Linked DNA regions of Homo sapiens. The protein of the gene in region 4 purifies or fractionates together with the protein of the main gene of each other region. This does not show direct contact. Each region holds a gene or a part of one and is shown on either strand. Other genes may lie near its edges.

Evidence for each region. Proteins that work in one complex are often made in the same cells at the same time.
Region 1: the proteins of CAMKMT (region 4) and TUBB6 purify together in Homo sapiens (affinity purification with mass spectrometry, with the first as the bait; one study listed by BioGRID). This does not show direct contact.
Region 2: the proteins of CAMKMT (region 4) and NPEPPS purify together in Homo sapiens (affinity purification with mass spectrometry, with the first as the bait; one study listed by BioGRID). This does not show direct contact.
Region 3: the proteins of CAMKMT (region 4) and COL1A1 purify together in Homo sapiens (affinity purification with mass spectrometry; 3 studies listed by BioGRID and IntAct, with this or other methods). This does not show direct contact.

Annotation. Positions count from the first base shown.
Region 1 is NC_000018.10:12,318,241-12,321,740, reverse strand, and holds part of TUBB6 (tubulin beta-6 chain), read right to left. Parts: intron 1,206-3,500; exon of another isoform or gene 1,079-1,205; coding exon of another isoform or gene 997-1,078; intron 1-996. UniProt on the Homo sapiens protein: Tubulin is the major constituent of microtubules, a cylinder consisting of laterally associated linear protofilaments composed of alpha- and beta-tubulin heterodimers.
Region 2 is NC_000017.11:47,593,608-47,597,107, reverse strand, and holds part of NPEPPS (puromycin-sensitive aminopeptidase), read right to left. Parts: intron 756-3,500; coding exon 646-755; intron 1-645. UniProt on the Homo sapiens protein: Aminopeptidase with broad substrate specificity for several peptides. Involved in proteolytic events essential for cell growth and viability. May act as regulator of neuropeptide activity.
Region 3 is NC_000017.11:50,191,632-50,195,131, forward strand, and holds part of COL1A1 (collagen alpha-1(I) chain preproprotein), read right to left. Parts: intron 3,470-3,500; coding exon 3,416-3,469; intron 3,198-3,415; coding exon 3,090-3,197; intron 2,996-3,089; coding exon 2,942-2,995; intron 2,817-2,941; coding exon 2,718-2,816; intron 2,553-2,717; coding exon 2,499-2,552; intron 2,411-2,498; coding exon 2,312-2,410; intron 1,417-2,311; coding exon 1,363-1,416; intron 1,220-1,362; coding exon 1,166-1,219; intron 1,063-1,165; coding exon 1,009-1,062; intron 898-1,008; coding exon 844-897; intron 394-843; coding exon 349-393; intron 256-348; coding exon 157-255; intron 1-156. UniProt on the Homo sapiens protein: Type I collagen is a member of group I collagen (fibrillar forming collagen).
Region 4 is NC_000002.12:44,763,947-44,767,446, forward strand, and holds part of CAMKMT (calmodulin-lysine N-methyltransferase), read left to right. Parts: intron 1-2,483; coding exon 2,484-2,615; intron 2,616-3,500.

The sequences.
Region 1 (3,500 bases), on a different chromosome or scaffold from region 4:
AACTAATTCAAGTCATAAAAACTTGCATTGCATTATACAGACCTCTCCCCACTTACTCCAACTTGACTTTTGTCTACACACGGCTGGTGGCAACAATTCACAGCCACTGCCAAAGACCAGCCTCTCTGGTTTCACGTGGGCAGGTCCATCCCTGATGCTGCACTCACCCTGGGGGCACTGAACTATGAAGCAGTGAAACCACCAAGGCTGCCTCTGAGAGCTGCCAAGTGCTACATCGGGTAAGCAAGCTGCCTTTCACTTGTCAATCTTTAATTAGTGGACAAGGGGCTCCCATGCAATTTGGGACACGGGCCTGCTCACAATGAGGTCTACTGATGGCACCCCTGGCTTCTGCAGTACATAACAAGTGCAGCCTTACACAGTGGCTCTACTCTTGGGGGGGATGAAGCATTTATCAGTGCTACACACTGTAGGTGTTCAGTGCAAGAAAAAACAAATTCTGTGATTCTTCATTAAGTGTACTGAACTTAATGTTAAAATGTATGTACTGGACTGTTAATAACTCATATCACATATAAAGGATACCCTCCTTCAATATCTAAAGAAGTCCTTAAATCAGTAAGAAAAACAACAGCCATTAGGAAAACAGGCAAAGGCTATAAACATACAGCTCACAGGAAAGGAAATTCCAATAGCTTAGGTACTGGAAATAATGCTAAACCCTTCTCATAAGGGAAACGCAAATTAAAACAAGGAGATTCTATTTTTCTGCTGTGAAACTGACAGAGATCCAAACACCTGAGTTGCACTGCTGAGGGTTTGGGGAAGGCCACTTCCCACGGGAGCTACTGGAGATAGCAAGGGCAGTGGGCTGTAGAACAGCTGAGCTACAGCTATCAAAATTATCCCCCTAGACACAGCAATTACACTTCTGTAAGTTTTTCTAGATAGACCCATACATGTGCAAAATGACATATATACAAATGTTTACTGAGGAACAATTTATAATAATAAAAAGGGGAACAACCCAAATACCTATCAACTGAAGACTGGTTAAATCCACGGCGGTATCTCTGCAGAGGATACTATCAGCCATCAACAGGAATGAGGCAGCCATACTTGTGAAATGGAAAGATCTTCAAAATACGTTGCTGGGGAGCCAGGGAGGAACACTAGGGTACTAAACAGTGTATACAGCTGGCTCCATTGTATGTGTGTAAATATATGCGTCTGCCTGAACATACCTGAAAGGACATTCAAGAATCTTAACACTAGTTCGGGGTAGGAAGGAGATCAACTTTTCACTATATACCCTTTTGTTCCTTTTAAGTCCTAAACCATGAAAATGTTTTACCTAGCTAGCTAGCAAAATGAAAAAAAAAATTACTTTATTAAAACATTTACAATGCAATTAAGAAAGCACAGGTTGTCTTTGAAGGATGGGGTCCTAAGAGAGTTCATTTCTAGCTTTATGACATTTTAACTAAAACATTTATTTTATGATAAGTGAATATTAAAGTATAAAAAAGGAATTTTTTATTATTATTATTTTAGAAATGGGGTCTTCCACTGCTACCCAGGCTGGAGTGCAGTGGTGCAATCATAGCCACTGCAGCCTCCAACTCCTGGGCTCAAGGGATCCTCCTGCCTCAGCCTCCTGAGTAGCTGGGACAATTAAAAAAACATTTTTTTGGCTGGGCACGGTGGCTCACGCTTGTAATCTTAGCACTTTGGGAGGCCGAGGCGGGTGGATCACGAGGTCAGGAGATTGAGACCATCCTCGCTAACATGGTGAAACCCCGTCTCTACCAAAAATATAAAAAAAATTAGCATGGCATGGTGGCGGGCGCCTGTAGTCCCAGCTACTCCGGAGGCTGAGGCAGGAGAATGGCGTGAACCCGGGAGGTGGAGCTTGCAATGAGCTAAGATCGCACCACTGCACTCCACCCTGGGCGACAGAGTGAGACTCCGTCAAAAAAAAGAAAAATTTTGTAGAGAGGGTCCCCTTATGTTGTCCATGTTGGTCTTAAACTTTTGAACTCAAGTGATCATCCTGTCTTGGCCTCCCAAAGTGCTGGGATGGCAGGTGTGAACGCCTGAGCCCAGCTCTTCTTTAATGAAAAATTTTAAAATGTCATCAGTAAGTGGGAAATTACTAAATGATGACATATACAATGGTAGGCACTGTGACTGTCACGGAGGATGTCTGAGATACATTAATGAATTTTTCAAAAGGCTGCAAAATGGTGTGTATAGCAGGATCCCATTTTCCCCAGACAAAATCAGCTCTGTGTGCTCACCTAGGTGCACATGGACACAGAAAAATGTCAGCAGGGCCGGGCGCGGTGGCTCACACCTGTAATCCCAGTACTTTTGGGAGGCCGAGACAGGAGGATCACCTGAGGTCAGGAGTTCGAGACCAGCCTGGCCAATATGGGGAAACCCCATCTCTACTAAAAATACAAAAAATTAGCTGGGTGTGGTGGCAGGTGCCTGTAATCCCAGCTACTCCAGAGGCTGAGGCAGGAGAATTGCTTGAACCCAGGAGGTGGAGGTTGCAGTGAGCCGAGATTGCGCCATTGCACTCCAGCCTGGGCAACAAGAGCGAAACTCCGTCTCAAAAAAAAAAAGAAAAAAAAAAAAAAGGAAAAAGGAAAAATGTCAGCAGGACACAGCACAACTGTCTACACACTCGGTTATCCCCCTAGGGAATAAAACCTCAGGGGCCACCAGTAGAAGGGATGACAGCTTTCCCTTTCTGCACTGTATACACAATCTATGTGTACTGTTTGAAAAAACCATGTACAAGCACTTTGTTTTAACTTTGACATGAAAACATTAAACACTTTTTTTTGTATAAGACCAGCTATGGGAGCTCACACCTGCAATCCTAGCACAGGAGGGTGAAGTGGGAGGACTGCTTGAGCCCAGGAGTTTGAGGCTACAGTGAGCTATGATCACACCACTGCACTCCAGCCTGGGTGACAAGGCGAGACCCCATCTCAAACAAACAAACAAACAAAACCACACATTTAAATATTGAACACTGAAGTTTCCAGAGAGCAGAACTGGCCAGCTGAAACTGACCACAGAGGGCCCTTGCACTTGTCTGCAGCATCAGCCTCCCTAGATCTCCGTCTCAGTCCCACTGAGAAATCAGCTCAGCCTTTCTCTCCTATTGTCTTTGCCCCATTTGGCAGTCCAAAGCCCAGTGTCACTGGCATGGCAGGCCCTATGGCTCTGCAGAGGGGCCGGGCTAGGCAGATGCCTGCTGTGTGCTTGCAGCACACCCCGTGGGCCTGGCCACTTTAGTACTCTCAGGTGGCCGTTTCCTTGTGTTTTTCACAAGCCGTAGACAGCATCTAGTATGTGACTGTTCTCTTACAAACAGGGGATTCTCTTCTTCCTGCCCAGCTGTGTTGCACAGTGAATCCTAGCTGACTGCCTTCTCTTAGTAGGCGAGAAAATGGTCACCGTCCTTCCTAAGCCCCCACCAACTTCTCTCCACCCCTTCCCCACCCAACCTAGCAGGCAGCACC
Region 2 (3,500 bases), on a different chromosome or scaffold from region 4:
TGCATTTGATTCTGTTTATGTAGTGATTATAAATCAATACATTGATTTTTTTTTTTTTTTGAGACGAAGTCTCGCTCTGTTGCCCAAGCTGGAGTGCAGTGGCACAATCTCGGCTCGCTGCAACTTCCACCTCTCGAGTTCAAGCAATTCTCCTGCCTAAGTCTCCAGAGTAGCTGGGATTACAGGTGTGTGCCACCATGCTCAGCTAATTTCTGTATTTTTAGTAGAGACAGGGTTTTACTACATTGGCCGGGCTGGCCTCAAACTCCCGACCTCAAGTGATCCACCCGCCACGGCCTCCCAGAGTGTTGGGATTACAGGCGTGAGCCACCACGCCCGGCCTAATTTTTTAAAAAATGTTAAACCAACCTTGCATTTGTAGAATAAACCATATTTGGTGGTTTTAGAATTATATCAAATTTTACAGTATTTTCCCTGGAGACTAGACAAGCAAGTAACATTTTGTTTTCTCTCTTAAGCATGTATAATTTTAATGATGCAAGCTGTAAAATTACTGATAAAAGAGTAACAGGGCTGGTTTAAATGTCACTAGAAAACTTAAAGTACAGAAAAGCAAACTTGATACACTGTACTGAACTTCATTTAATACAATATCAGACAAATGGAAAGACTTTATATGTTTACCTGTTCAGCTTCCACATAAATGAGGGGAAATCCCATTTGTTTGGTCCAGGTATTCATCACAGCTGCTATAGGTTTACCACTAGCATTTTCTAAACTTTCCCAGAGATCCTCTAGAAGATAAACAATGATAATCTAAAATGTTTATATTTTTATTTTCCTAAACAAAAAAGAAATTTTATTTAACTTTTGACACTACACTGCTAATTCTTTGGTTCTTTCAGGTTCAGGAAACAGTGAGCCAAATTAACATTCCCCTTGCCACCCCTCTTCTGCAACTAAGTAAATTCTATCATAAAAACTGGTATTTTTTGAGATACGGTCTTACTTCATCACCCAGGCTAGAGTGCAGTGGCATAATCACAGCTCACTGCAGCCTCGACCTCCCAGACTCAGGTGATCTTCCCTCCTCAGCCTCCTGAGTAGCTGGGACTACAGGTGCACACCACAACACCTGGCTTTTTTTTTTTTTTTTTTTTTTTTTGAGATGGAGTCTTGCTCTGTTGCCCAGGCTGGAGTGCAGTGCCATGATCTAAGATCACTGCAACTTCTGCCTCCCAGGTTCAAGCAATTCTCCTGCTTCAGGTGCCTGAGTAGCTGGGATTACAGGCATGTGCCACCACACCCAGCTAATTTTTGTATTTTTAGTAGAGATGGAGTTTCGCCATGTTGACCAGGTTGGTCTTGAACTCCTGACCTCAGGTGATCCACTGCCTCGGCCTCCCAAAGTGCTGGGATTACAGGCATGAGCCACCGCACCTGGCCCATAATTTCTTGCAATTTTTTGTAGAGATGGGATTTCACCATGTTGCCCAGGCTGGTCTCAAAATCCCGGGCTCAAGCAATCCACCTGCCTCAGCCTCCCAAGGTGCTGGAATTACAGGTGTGAGTCATAACACCTGGCCAAAACTGGTCTTTTATTCTGAGATATACTTAATCATTCTAATTTATAAGAAAAATTACAAATTATAATAAAAGATAAACAGATGAGTTAAGGAGAAACAAAGAAATTGAAATGTGTTCAAGATCACTACTAAACAATCACTGACAAACTTAAGACCGTTATACCCATTCAATTAACCTCACTTTAAAAATATCCAGGCTGGACGCAGTGGTTCATGCCTATAATCCCAGCACTTTGGGAGGCCAAAGCGGGCGGATCACCTGAGGTCTGGAGTTCAAGACCAGTCTGACCAACATGGAGACACCCCATCTCTACTAAAAATACAAAATTAGGCTGGGTGCAGTGGCTCACACCTGCAATCCCAGCACTTTGGGAGGCCGAGGTGGGCACGTCACCTGAGGTCAGGAGTTCGAAACCAGCCTGGCCAACATGGTGAAACCCTGTCTCTACTAAAAATACAAAAATTAGCTGGGCATGGTGGCACACACCTGTAATCCCAGCTACTTGGGAGGCTGAGACAGGAGAATCACTTGAACCCAGGAGGCGGAGGTTGCAACGAAGCCAAGACTGCACCACTGCACTCCAGCCTGGGCGACAGAGCAAGACCCTGTCTTTAAAAAAAATAAAATAGGCCAGGCGCGGTGGCTCACGCCTGTAATCCCAGCACTTTGGGAGGCAGAGGCGGGCGGATCATGAGGTCAGGAGATCGAGACCATCCTGGCTAACACAGTGAAACCCTGTCTCTACTAAAAATACAAAAAATTAGCCGGGCGTGGTGGCGGGCGCCTGTAGTCCCAGCTACTCGGGAGGCTGAGGCAGGAGAATGGCCTGAACCCGGGAGGTGGAGCTTGCAGTGAGCCGAGATCGCGCCACTGCACTCCAGCCTGGGCGACAGAGCGAGACTCCGTCTCAAAAAATAACATAACATAACATAACATAACATAACATAACATAACATAACATAACATAAAATAAAATACAAAATTAGCCGGCCGTGGTGGCACATGCCTGTAATCCCAGCTACTCAGGAGGCTGAGGCAGGAGAATCACTTGAACCCGGGAGGCGGAGGTTGTGGTGAGCCAAGACTGCACCATTGCACTCCAGCCTGGGCAACAAGAGCGAAACTCTGTCTCAAAAAAAAAAAAAAAGAATTGAAAAGAATCAAAAAGTTAAAAAAATTAAAAAGTAAATTTAAAATGTTACAGTAAGCTAAGGTTAATTTATTATTCAAGAAAGAAAAATTATTTTTATAAATTCAGTGTAGCCTAAGTGTAAAGTATTTATAATATCTATAGTAGTGTATAGTAATGTCTTAGGCCTTCATATTCACTCACCACTCACTCAACTAGAACAACCTCTATAAGTTGTCCTATAAGCTGCATTCAGGTGTAGCACCTTATTTTCTTTTGAGACCGCGTTTCGCTGTTGCCCAGGCTGGAGTGCAGTGGCCCAATCACAGCTCACTGCAGCTTTGACCTCCCAGGCTCAAGTGATCCTCCTACCTCAGCCTCCCAAGTAGCTGGGACTACAGGCACATGCCACCACACCCAGCTAATTTTTGTACTTTTTATAGAAGCGAGGTTTTGGCATGGTGCCCAGGCTGGTCTCAAACTCCTGGACTCAAGCAGTCCACCTGCCCCAGCCTCCCAAAGTGCTGGGATTATAGGCATATCAGCCAGCTGGTGGAGCATCTTTAATATCATATTTTTACTGTACCTTTTCTATATTTAGAAATGTTCAGGTATACAAATACCATTGTGTTATAATTGCCTATGGTATTCAGTACAGTAACATGCTGTACAGGTATTTTGTAGCCTAGCAGCAACAGGGTATATACCATGTAGGCTAGGTGTACATAGCCTAGGACATACTGTGTAGGTTTCTGTAAGTACATTCTATGATGTTCACATATTGATGAAATTGCCTGACAACATATTTCTCAGAACATATCCC
Region 3 (3,500 bases), on a different chromosome or scaffold from region 4:
GACTCCAGGCTGTGTGTGGGCCCCTGCCCTGGTCTTTTCCCCCCACCCCACACCCTATCTCCATGGCTTTGGTCATGGCCCGCCATCCCCTGCTGCAGGAGGGGTGAGACCTGGTCCCTGGGCCACTTGCCAGAGCCCCTTCCACGCTGCCCTCACCTTAGCACCATCGTTGCCGGGAGCACCGTTGGCCCCTCGGGGACCAGCAGGACCAGGGGGACCTTGCACACCACGCTCGCCAGGGAAACCTCTCTCGCCCTAGAAGGGAAGGACAGGGCATGTGAAGGCTGCTCTGGAGATAGGGCCAAGTACGACGCACCTTGACGGATGCAGCGAGAGAGGCCTACTTACTCTTGCTCCAGAGGGGCCAGGGGCGCCAAGGTCTCCAGGAACACCCTGAGGGGGAGGGAGAGAGGAACAGACAGTGAGCAAAACCCACCTGGGGCCACTCTGCTGGAAAGCACGGTCCTTCCTCCTGGGGTCTGGCCGTGATTAGAGAGGAACCCCTTCTCAGCACTGAATTGAGATTATCCCAAACAGCCCCTCTCTTCCTCCTAGGGATGTGTCAAAGGCTTCCCCCCTCCCCAAACTATGGACCAAGATTTATCAATAGAAGGGTTGAGGGAAAGTCACAGCATATTCCAGCAGCTCTTAAAAGAAGTCACCCAGACTAGCAATCATGCAGCCCCCACTTCCCTCTGTGCTGCTCCCTTCATGGGAGGAAGTTCTTTCCGGCGTCTAACCTCAATCCCTCTAGTTGATGGCTGTCTGATTAGCTAGGAGCGGGGGCCTGTCCCTCTGGATTCCCTGCATCTCCCACCCCTCTGGCCGGCTGCTCCCTCTTACCTGTTCACCAGGTTTGCCTGCTTCACCTGGAGGACCAGCAGGACCAGGGAGACCCTGTAGGTGGGAAATGGGGGAAGAAGGGAGGGAAGGTTTAGAATCTGGAAGAGACCAAAGAGGTGTTTCCTACCCCTACCTCCCAGCATCCTGACAGCCATGAGGCCTCACCTGGAATCCGGGGGAGCCAGCAGGGCCTTGTTCACCTCTCTCGCCAGCGGGACCCTGCACAGAGAGAACACTACAGTCACGGGGAGGCCGAGGAGACGAGGGGCTGAGGGTGTCTCCCCTTTTCTGCTCCCCAGATCTCCCCATCAGGGACACTCACAGCAGGGCCAGGGGGTCCCTGAGCTCCAGCCTCTCCATCTTTGCCAGCAGGACCCTGCAGGGAGAGAGCAAAGGGGAACTCAGGGTTAGGAGGCCCCGAGCAGCTGAGGACCGTGGCCTCTAGCACCCCTCCTGCAGGGAGGAGAAAGTGCCGGGGCAGCAATGGGAAGGAGGTAGGGATGGAAAGGAGATACTTACGACAGCGCCAGGGGGTCCGGGAACACCTCGCTCTCCAGCCTTGCCGGGCTCTCCCTGTGGAGAAAGGGAGTTAGGGTTGAGGGGGCTGAAGTGAGAAGCCAGGGCCTCCTGGGGCCTCTCATTTACTCTGAGTGGGACTTTTTAAGGGACTTTCTTTTCAAAAGACTGTTTGGCCCCCGGGGAATGCCCCTGCAGGTGCTTCTTGCTGGGCCCTTTCTGAGCCCACTCCTCCCAAGATGCCCTTCCAGGCTCCTCTGCCTTTTCCCTGTTAGATGCCCGCTGTGGCCTGCACTGCAAAGGGCTTTCATCTTCTCTGCTATCTCCTTTTGGACCTCAAAGAATCCACCAAGACTGGGGGTGCCTATCATATCAAAGGCCTGTCCTATCCCCACGTGTCGGGGTGGAGGGCCACCAACAACACTTATTTCCAGGACAGAGCAGTGGTCATGGAGCCTGGAGAAGTGTTTCATTTTTTCTTTCTTTCTTTCTTCTTTTTTTTTTTTTTTGAGATGGAATCTCGCACTGTTGCCCAGGCTGGAGTGCAATGGCGTGATCTCAGCTCACTGCAACCTCCACCTCCCGGGTTCATGCAATTCTCCTGCCTCAGCCTCCTGACTAGCTGGGGTTACAGGTGCACACCACCACACCCAGCTAATCTTTTGTATTTTTAGTAGAGACGTGGTTTCACTATGTTGGCCCGACTGGTCTCAAACTCCTGACCTCATGGTCTGCCCGCCTTGGCCTCCCAAAGTGCTGGGATTACAGGCATGAGCCACCGTGCCCCGCCGAGAAGTCTTTCATTTTACAGATAGGGAGGCTGAGGTCCAGAAAGTGAGAGTGAGTGGCCACACGGCAGGTCAGCGGCACAGCTGAGCCCAGAGCCCAGGACTCCTTCAAGTCTCAGGTGTGTTTGTCCCTGGCTCTTCATGGATCCTCACTTAATACTCACAGCAGCACCTTTAGGTCCAGGGAATCCCATCACACCAGCCTGACCACGGGCACCAGGTGGGCCTGGGGGTCCGGGGCGACCATCTTGACCGGCGGGACCCTAAGGATGGGAGGCACGAAAGCAGCAGTGAGGACAGCAGGGAGGCAGACAGGACAATGGCAGGGGGTTCAGGGGGAGTGATACTTACAGGGGGGCCAGTTTTGCCATCAGGACCAGGGCTGCCAGGGCTTCCAGTCAGACCCTAGGGAGGCAGAGAGGTATGAGTGGGACTTGGGGAGAAGCATGATGGAGGTGGGGGAGGACTCCAGAGGGCAGACCCTTGGGCCTGATCCAGAACGCCTCATCCCAGACCCTACACGGGATGGTCAGGGCCTGGCCAAGCCAGGCTGAAAGCCTGGGGCCTCACCTTGGCACCAGGCAGACCAGCTTCACCGGGACGACCAGCTTCACCAGGAGATCCTTTGGGGCCAGCAGGGCCAGGAGAACCACGTTCACCAGCGGGACCCTGGTTGGGGGAAGTCACAGGAACAGTTAGGGTCTCAAGTTTGTGGCTCTTTGCCACGGGCCAAAAGAGGAAGAAGATGCCCAGGGAGCGGCAGGGTCAGCCCCCCGGCCGCAAGGAGAGGTTACCTTGGGACCAGCAACACCATCTGCGCCAGGGAAACCACGGCTACCAGGTCCACCCTGCAGGAGGAGAGGAGGCCAGTGAACTCCGCGACACACAGGCACCAGCCAGGCAATGAGGGTGGAGCGGGAGGGGGCGGGCAGGGACACTTACACGCTCGCCAGGGGGTCCGGGCAGGCCAGTGGGTCCGGGTTCACCTCGAGCTCCTCGCTTTCCTTCCTCTCCAGCAGGGCCAGGGGGTCCTTGAACACCAACAGGGCCCTGGAGAGGGCCGAGAGGAGGAGGCGGCCTGTGGTGAGGGGCCATCCTGTGCCAGCCTCAGAGCCGGCTGAGGCTGGGCCTCCAGTGTCAGGGGTTCCTGGGGGTGTGGCAGGGACTCCCCCAGAAGACTAGGGGCTCCTCTTCCTTTCTGGATTTCCCTCAGGGGGCTCCTAGGGCAGGGTGGGCTGGGCTGCAAGAAGGATGGCGGGGAGACTTACAGGCTCTCCCTTAGCACCAGTGTCTCCTTTGCTGCCAGGAGCACCAGGTTCACCCTGCAAGGGGGGAGAAGAGGATGAGCTGAGA
Region 4 (3,500 bases):
TAAAACAGCTTCCATTATTCAAAAATCCAGAATGGCAACCAGCTCTTAGAAATGACTAAAATGACCTACCAGCATTCCCTGTTGTTTTTTTTTTTCTAATGGAGACTTTTGCTGTCCTGCCGAGACCATGTATTATATCTAGTTTCACATAAAAATGAATTTTTGCTGCTAAGTTTGAAAACTGCCTGAAAATAGCAATTAATATTGAAAAAGCTGACAGAACCTTAAGTGTAGTGGCATGATTGGTGCTGCTATAATTATGTGCCTGAGTGTGTACAGGCTGATGTAAACACAGTATGAAAACACACTTGATGCTCAGGACAGTGTAGCCACGTATTTTCTTACGGGTAAGTGAGGGCGAAGGGGAGAGGGAGAGAGAATTGATAGCATTTTTAGAGCACTGTTAGGTGGTGTAGATCTTTCTAATCTTACATCAGTATAATCTTTCTAATTATTTTCACATTCTGTATTTGATCCTCACAATTTGTCGGGGGGAAAAAGGCAGGGCAGGCTTTGTTCTTCCCATTTAATGGATGAGAAAACTCAGTGGATCAGCGAGGATGGGTTAAGGTTCTTATCGACAAAATGGAGAGATTGGACTACATTATTTCCAAGCTTCCCTCTAACTCAAAAGTTCTATGATTATTTTCTGATTGTCCTGAGGTGACACCGCTGTTTAATGGTGGAGACTCCCCTTAAGTCCAGTCCTTTCTGCCACAGTTCCTCCTTATATTCTTCAAATCCTTCACTGTATGTTTAATCATCTGTAAAATGCAATGTCTACTGTACAGGTTGTTGAGAAGATCGCTGAGGGGATTAAAGGAGGATTTGTGAAGCACCTAGCACAGTGGTAGCTATCATTATCATTGTCATCACTGTTACTAATAAGGAGACATGTAGTGTAGTGGAGAGAGCATCAGTGCTGGGGCTTCTGATCATTCACTGACAGAGTTGATAATACCTACAACATAGGGTGGTTTAAAGACTAAAGGAGGGTTGGGCACGGTGGCTCATGCCTGTAATCCCAGCACTTTGGGAGGCCAAGGTGGGAGGACCACCTGAGGTCAGGAGTTTGAGACCAACCTGGTCAACATGGCGAAACCCCATCTCGACTAAAAATACAAAAAAAAAATTAGCCAGGCGTGGTGGACTGTGCCTGTAATTCCAGCTACTCAGGAGGCTGAGGCAAGAGAATTGCTTGAACCCAGGAGGCAGAGGTTCCAGTGAACCGAGATTGCACCACTGCACTCCAGCCTGGGTGACAGAGTGGGACTCTGTCTCAAAAAAAAAATGTCTAAAGGAGATGATGTTTATATGAATGCCTAGCCCAGTGTCTGACTACACTATACCTACAACATAGAGTGGCTTAAAGACTAAAGGAGAGGATATTCATATGAATGCCTAGCACAGTGTCTGACTACCAGGTGCTCAAGAAATGGCTGGCTGGTGTGAATGATAAACCACTCTTCATAAGAAACTCAGATATATTTTCATGATTCCCTCAAAACCTAAAGAGGCATTTCACAGAGGTGAAGTGTAACCTTGAGAGTAACAGAAGCATATAGCCATCTTTATTTTTTTTTTTAAAAAAAAAAAAGGAGATTCTGAAGTTTGGCCATTCTGTACACATCTGAGAGGGAGGAAAAATCCGCATGCATCCAATAGTTAGCAAATGGTCATTGTGAAGTTTCATGTCAGATGGTCTTCTGAAATCCAGTACATACTTTATTCAGTTCCTCCCATTCTCCCCACTGCAACAATCACATAAGATTGTGTGGATTATTTAGAAAAGGCTGTTTACCCTCATTATACCACTTTCTTTGAAAAGCAATCATGTGAATACTATGAGGAACTGCTTGGCTATAGTGATGACCATCATGAGGGATTCAATAAAGTTGGAAACCAAGATCCTGGAGCCTGTATCTGACAGCGTGGTCACAGAAAAGGCTAGGGCAGGACTGAAATATGAAAACTCTCCAAGAGGAATTGTGGTTACTTGTCTCTATGAAGGATTTCTTGGTACTGAATTTTCAGGGTGCAAAAAACTAACAGATGTAAGCATCTGTTGTCACATGCCCCAGGACTGTGTTGGGGAAGCGTTGGCAGGTGCTAAGGAGTCACAAGGTGAATGGCACTGCCCTGGACCAGTTACTCTAAAATCTAGTCAATGGCTTAACCCACTGGACCTGAGACAATGCATATTGTTCGGAACACCGGCTTTCAACCACATTTTGTTTTTTATAAGTATTATTTGAAAAAGATAAAACACAGCAACTGGCCATTTGGATGTGAAATCGATTCTTATATGATATACATCTCTCCTGGAAATTATTCTCACTGTGAATGTCCATCCTGCATAGACATCTCAAGAACAATTGAGTTTTTCTACTTGAGAGCAGTACATTAAATGCTTTGACCAATGTCTGTTATGTTTGGTTACCTTCCAGTTTTAAAATATGTGAATTTCCTTTTTACTGTTCTAGGGGAAAGCGATGGTATTTGCCCCACGCCGAGGGAATACTTTAAACCAGTTTTGCAATCTAGCTGAAAAAGCTGGTTTCTGTATCCAAAGACATGAAAATTATGATGAACACATTTCAAACTTCCACTCCAAGGTTAGTTTTCTGCTTGTGTTAGATAACACTTTAATCCGCATTGCATTTTGAAGAGATCATGGTCTTTTTGGCAGGTAACCTAAATATTTGATTAAAGTACTCCTTAGATGTGTTGCTTCTGAACAGCTATTTGTATCTGATTATTTTGTGTGGTAAAGCCATCTTTTATCTTTGCATGTCTAGAAGGATTTTACAGAAACCATTCCTGTTTACTCTTTTCTCTGAAACAAACTAATCTTTTCATTCATAATAGACTAATTTGTAGGATGTAAGGGGAGGTGGCATAGAATGAATAACATGCATTTATATTTTAATGAAAAACCTTCAGCTTTTAAGTAGGTTAAATGCTTAGCCGCACTGAAATAAATAGAAGGTGAATGTCTAATTGTATCATGTTGGACTGTAAATCTTTATCTCTGCTTGCTTTATAGCTGGGTCAGTTGGCAGTTTGAGACTGTTAAATCTCATACAGAATTTCACAGTTGTGGGGTTATATGTCAGATGGAGGCACTACAAGATTTAGGTCAAAAGCACTTATCTGAGAGTGATTTCTAAGCCTGCTTACATAAAGCAATGTTATCAGCCTTTTTATTATTTATAGGTATAGACCAATATAGGACACTGAGAGGCGAGTGTTTCACTGAAAACTTTTTAGGATTCTCACGTTTGCTAGTAGTACATGTCACAGTGACTAGTATAACATGTATTATTTCAGTAATTTTGTGCCTTACGGAAATCTCCCTTCACTGAGCTAGTCTGACCTTGGCAAGAGACTTTAACTTGTCATGATTTCACAAGTTGTAACTGCAGAAAAATAAAGGCCCGAGCTTAATTTTCTCCTGGGACAATGTGAACAGCATCCTTTATTACCCAGGACTGTAATAT